Linked DNA regions of Homo sapiens: region 2 is linked to region 1. The links come from fine-mapping of genetic effects on plasma protein levels. Region 1 holds a variant in brackets. A gene starts in the other region. All regions are shown on their forward strands.

Region 1 (2,889 bases):
TGAGGATGTACATGTGCACCTGTACACACCGTGGGAGCGTGTGCACGTGTGAGCAAGTGTGAGCATTTGGGTGAGTGTGTAAGAGTGAATGTGTGAGTGTGGGCTTGTGTGGCTGTCTTAGCTCAGGCGGCTCTTAGCGAATGCCACAGCCTGGGCGGCTCAGACGACAGCCAGTCACTGCTCACGGTTCTGGGGGCTGGAGGTCCAAGATCAAGGCAGCCTGGGTGTCTGGTGAGGATCCGCGTCCTGGGTGTCTCGTGAGGACCATGTCCTGCTGCATAGGTGGCGCTTTCTCTGTCCTTATATGGTGTAGGGGGAGGAAGCGCCCTGGGGCCCCCTCATCAGGTACTGGTCCCATTCTTGAGGCTCCACCCTGATGACCTCATCGCATCCCAAAGGCCCCACCACTAACCCATCGCCTTGGGGGTGAAGATTTCAACACTGGAATTTCAGATTCAGACCCCAGCACTGAGTGCATGAGTGCACGCTTCTGTGTGTGCACAAGCATGAGTGCAAGTGCATGACTGTGTCCACGTGTGTGTGCATGTGAATACCTGTGTGTGCAGGTGTGTATGCAAGTGTGTGTGTGCATGTGAATACCTGTGTGTGGGGGTGTGTGTGCACAAGTGTGTGTGTGTGCATGTGAATACCTGTGTGGGGGTGTATGTGTGCAAGTGTGTGTCCGCGTGCATGTGAATACCTGTGGGAGTGTGTGTGCACGTGTGCACATGCGTGTGAATACCTGTGTGTGCGAGTGTGTGTGAGCTCAAATGCTTGTCTGTGTGCGTGTGTCTGTGTGTGCAAGTGTGTGCCGGTGTCTGCATGGGCATGCAGCAGTGTGTGTGCCTGTGTGAATGTACATGTACGAGTGTGTGCCTGTGTGTGCATGTATGTGTGCCTCTGTGTACATGTATGAGTGTGCATGTGCGTGTGTGCGTGTATGAGTGTGTGTGACTGTGAGTGTATGTGTGTGTGCCTGTGTGAGCATGTATGAATGTGTGTGCTTGTCTGAGTGTGCGTGTATTGGTGTGTGCGTGCCTTTGTGTGTGCGTGTGTATATGCCTGTGTGTGTGCATGTATGAGTGTGTGTGCCTGTGTGCATGCCTGTGTGTGCATGTATGTCTGTGTATGTGTGTGTATGTGTGCGTGCCTGTATGTCTGCCTGTGTATGTGTCTGTGTGCGTGTGTGTGTGCATGTATGTGTGCCTGTGATCATGTATGTCTGTGTGTGCCTGTGTGTGTATGCATGGAGTGTGTGTGTGCGTGTATGTGTGTGCGCGTATGAGTGTGCATGCCTGTGTACGAGTGTGCCTGTGTATGTGTGCATGTCTGTGTGTGTATGTGTGTATGAGTGTGCGTGCTTTTGTGCACGTGTGAGTGTGGTGCCTGTATGAGTGTACGTGTGCCTGTGTATGCATGTGTGAGTGTGCGTGTATGAGTGTGTGTGCCTGTGTATGTGTATGAGTGTGCATGTCTGTGTGTGCATT[A/AGT]GTGTGTGTGCCTGAGTGTACATGTGTGTGCCTGTGTGTGCGTGCATGTATGTGTGCACACATTGTGTGTGTGCGTGTATGTGTCTGTGTATGAGTGTGCATGTGTGTGTGTGCGTCTGTGTGAGTGTGCATGTATGAGTGTGTGTGCCTCTGTGTGAGTGTGCGTGTGTGCCTGCTTGTTCCACATGGTCTCTGTGCCTTGGCCTCTCCTGGTGCCTCTTCCTCGTTTGTCTCCTTTCAGCATCACGACCCGGTGCCCTCCACCCAGCCCAGTGCTGCCTGCCAGAGCCCCGGGAACCCTCCAAGTTCTGCAAAAGCCTTCCCTGGCCAGGTTGCAGCCAATGCCCGCAGCCAGAGGGTGGGTGGGCAGGGCTGATGGTGGTTCCTCAGCCGCCAGGCAAGAGACCCCCAGCCGGAGGGTGGGTGAGCAGGGCCGATGGTGCTTCCTCAGCCGCTGGGTGAGAGACTCCCAGGTGCCCAGGCCTCCTGGGAGGGTGTGGCTGGGGCCCTCTGGGCCTGGCGCCCGGGGAGCTGGCCAGTGGCCATCCACTCCTGAGTCCCCCAGACCTGTGTCTACCCGGCACACGTGCTGTGTCCCAGGGAGAGCCGCTGCGTCCTGGGGCTCTGGTGTCCCGGCCTTGACCTGGCTTGGTCTCAGCCCTGGGCCTGGAGCTTCCATCTCTCTGGTACCAGTTCCTGCAGCGCTTTGCCCCCTGGCACTCCCCGAGAGATGCACTTTAAAAACAGGATCGATTTATTGTTGGTGATGAGGAGAGGGCGGCCTGAGCGTGAGGGGGTGGGCGTCAGCTGCCGGAGAAGCTTCTGCCAGGCAGGAGGGACGAGCGGGCCCCCAGCTCTGACCTCTCGGCTTCTGTTCATGTTTGAAAATGAAATCGGTGGTTTGGGTGGTCGTCAGTTTCCTGTGGCCGACAGAAGAAAGCACCACAGCTGGGCCTTCAAACAATGAGAATTCACCCACTGAGTCCTGGGAGTTAGAGCTCTGCAGTCGAGGGGCCCGTAGGGCCACGCTCCCTCCAGGCTTCCCAGAGGGGCTCCTTCCTGCCTCTCCCAGCTCCTGTTAGACACAGGTGTCCCTTGGCTGTGGCCTCAGCGCTCCAGTCCCTGCCTCCGTCCCCATTCAGGTGACCTTCCCTGTGTCTGCGCCTCCTGTTCTCCCCCTTACAAGGACACTTGCTGCTGCGTTCAGACAATCCAGGATCCTGAACTCGATTACATATGCAGAAACCCTGTTCCCAAATAAGGACATACAGGTTCCGGGGTCGGGAGTGGACACGTCTTGCTGGGGGCCACGCTCAGCCCCTGCCTGTAAGTGCTCCTGGATTTTCAGGCGTTCCCAAGGTGCAGGATGTGAGTCTGCATTTGTAGACAGAGTCCAGAAAAG
Region 2 (2,889 bases), not on the chromosome of region 1:
AGAAATTTCTAGGGTCATTATTTGAGTTTGGTATGAGAAGTCAGAAACTCAGTACTGACATTTAAATTACATTTAGAGGGCATTATCATGTCTTTAATTCCGAGGCCAATGTAAGGTTCACAGCTGGAATTGGTATAATATTGGGGTATTAGTCAGTCTCTGCTTGGGGTTGACACTAGGTCAGAGAAGTGGAGGGTGAACATGAGGATGAAGGGGCTTTGTGTGGAGTTTCTGCAAAGCCAGTCTTATCTTGGGTTCCAAGATTATTATTAAAGCTGGGTTGGTTTAGGGTCCTAAATGGTCTCAAGTTTGGGTGGGGTTTCAGGTCAGTATCTGTGTTTGGGGGTCCTTTTATGGTGACCCAATCCCAACTCTGGAATTGAGAATCGAATTCAGAGTGCATTGGTGTTGATCTGGGAATGGGAGAGCAGTACTGGAGTTTTATGTAAGGCTTGGGGTTCAGAAGAGAGATAACTGGGGTCCATAGCAAGGTAGCTTTTGGACTTTAGGGTTCATTTAGGGACTGGGGGCTGAGCATTAGTACAGGGTTCCATTTAAGGTCCAGCGTTGGTGCTAGCGTCACTATCAAGGTTAGGGCAAGTAGAAGTAATAAAGAGATTTAGAGTCAGAATTGGTATTTGGGATCAGTATAGAGGTTCACAACAAAATTACTACTTGTGCTAATTTGGGGGCAGATTAAGGGCTTTGGACTCAATATTGGGTTTAGGGCAAGGTGTGGGCTCAGTATCAGGTTCAGATCTGTATGGGGAGGAAATGGGGTCCTAGAGTGGTATTAGGTTCATGCTAGGGCTGGGAGCCACTAGAAGGATCTGGATGTAGTATCAGAGTTTGGTCTGTCTATGTTCATTATTGGGGTTCGGGTTCAATATTGAGGTTCCGGTCGGTTTCGACTTGGCGTTGGGTTGTGGCCTGTCTGGGCCTCAGCGGCTCCGCGGCTCTACGAGCGAGAGTGCACGAGGGGAGGGGCGCCGCCGGGGGCGCGCACGGCAGGGGCAGGGGCGCGGGCGCGAGCGCGAGGGGAGCGCGCGGCTGGAGCTGGCGCGGGAGCGGCGGGAGCGGTGGCGGCGGCAGAGGCGGCGGCTCCAGCTTCGGCTCCGGCTCGGGCTCGGGCTCCGGCTCCGGCTCCGGCTCCGGCTCCAGCTCGGGTGGCGGTGGCGGGAGCGGGACCAGGTGGAGGCGGCGGCGGCAGAGGAGTGGGAGCAGCGGCCCTAGCGGCTTGCGGGGGGACATGCGGACCGACGGCCCCTGGATAGGCGGTGAGTGACCCCCCGGCCCCCCACCAGCCCCCTCCGCTCCCGTCCCTTCCCCGCTCTCCTTGCCCTCCCCGCTAGTCCACCCGGCGGAGCTGGGGGCGGTCCCGGGGGGGACGAGGGCGCCGCTGAGGCCGGGCCGCGCCCCCACCTGCCGCGCCCGCAGCCTCGGCGAAGCCCCCCCTCCACGCCCCAGCCTGGCGGCTCCTCCCCGCTCACCCCGCGGCAGACGCGCCCCCAGCGCTGCTGGCTGGCTCGCTCCCCGCCGCCCCTCGCCGCCTCCCTCCCTCTCCACCGCACCTTAGCCGCAGCCCGCCCCCCCCACCCAGCGCAAAGTTTCCCGTTTGCGTTCTTGCTCCCCCTCATCGGTCCCGCCTCGTCCCCCCTTCTAGCGCGGACGCGCTCCGGGGGCGGCCCTCAGACCCCCCAGCCCCGGGCTCCGGGCGGGTCCAGGCCGCGCCCCCGCCCCCGCCGCACAGGCGCCCCCTCCCAGCCGGCGGGGGATCCGCAGCCGGCGCGCCCGGGTCTCGCTCGCGGCCCCGGCGCACGTGCGGTCCCGGGCTGCGCCGGGCGCGAGTTTGAAGCCCCCCCACCCCCTTCGTTCGCGAGCACGGGATGGGGAGGGGCCGAACGGGCTGTACCCGCCCCCAACCGGGTGCAACGCCCTGGAGGCCCTGGAGCGACCTGTCCCGTGAGGACGTGGCCACTCGGACCCTCTCCGAAAGTTCACTCAGTGGCCGCCCCGCGTCCCGTCCCGTCCCGTCCCGGCTCCCCATCGCCGTGCCGGCGTCTCTGTCTCGGCTGCTTTCTGTTTTCCTCGGCGTCTCTGCCTCCCCGTGTCAGTGCCTCCCAATCTCACGCCCCTGCAATCCCAGGGTCTCTCCAGCTGTCTCCATTCTTTTTCCCCAGGTCACTCTGTTCTTTCTCCCCAGGTCTCTCGATTCTGTCTCCCTGGGTCGTCTTGTTCCCTGTCCCTGAGTCTGTTCTCTCCGCTTGGGTCTCTCTATTTCCTCTCCCTGGGTCTCTGTCTCCCTCCTTAAGTCTCTGCCTCTTGTCTCTCACCCATCTCTTGGTGTCTCTGCACTCTCTGTGCTAGGCGCCCCCCCATTTCCCTGGAATGCTGCCCCTCTGGTTCTTCCACCCCGGAGGGGGAGGGGCTAGACTTTCTCCCCATTTCAAGCCCCCCTGCCCCCCAGTGCACGGCCCCTGAGTTGGAGCAGGTTGGGGGTGGGGAGCGCTACCTGCCTGAGCTGTGAAATGGGAGAGGGAGGCTGCCCCAGCCTGGGGGTTGTCTGGATCTCCCTGAGGGGCCACAGGGCAGGGCCGGGAGGCTGGATTAGGTTGAGGAAGGCTCCACTTTTGAAGGAACAGGGGCAGGGATCCAGAGCGATCTGGTGTCGGATCTGGCCTGAGAAGCAGGGAAGTGCACTGGGGTGAGAGGCGTAGAAAAGGATGTGGGGTGGTGGTTCCAGGCGGGTGCTCATGGGGAGGAATCTGCTGAGAAGGGAAGATCTGGTGGGGAATCCTTTGGGAGGCTTCGGGGATCTGAGGGATCCAGAAGAGAGTTCTGACAGGCTATCTAAGGAAATTTCTGTGCTTAGCTCCTTATTAACTCTTG

Direction of the effects. Alleles are on the strand shown, and positions count from the first base shown. The strength of an association depends on the size of the effect and on how common the allele is.
As copies of A replace AGT in region 1, the plasma level of the protein whose gene starts at base 1,070 in region 2 goes up (weak association).

What was found. A credible set is the group of variants that fine-mapping cannot tell apart. PIP is the chance, under the fine-mapping model, that this variant and not a neighbour inherited with it causes the effect. Protein levels are from antibody-based Olink assays in UK Biobank. Linkage for the fine-mapping came from a reference panel and not from the study's own genotypes, which makes the PIPs less certain.
Region 2: PTPRF starts here. The variant in region 1 is the best candidate, but not a certain one, in a credible set for the plasma level of the PTPRF protein (UK Biobank, PIP 0.51).

The regions. Positions count from the first base shown.
Region 1 is chr4:3,467,576-3,470,464 of GRCh38, forward strand. The region is part of intron 2 of DOK7 (docking protein 7); the gene reads left to right. Among named protein-coding and RNA genes, the nearest start is that of DOK7, 5.7 kb to the left of the region's middle. RefSeq lists an enhancer at 103-710. The variant A/AGT (reference allele first, on the strand shown) is at 1,488.
Region 2 is chr1:43,529,814-43,532,702 of GRCh38, forward strand. It overlaps PTPRF (protein tyrosine phosphatase receptor type F), which reads left to right and starts at 1,070. Exons shown (of 34, transcript NM_002840.5): 1 at 1,070-1,277. RefSeq lists a silencer at 1,781-1,850 and an enhancer at 1,916-2,488.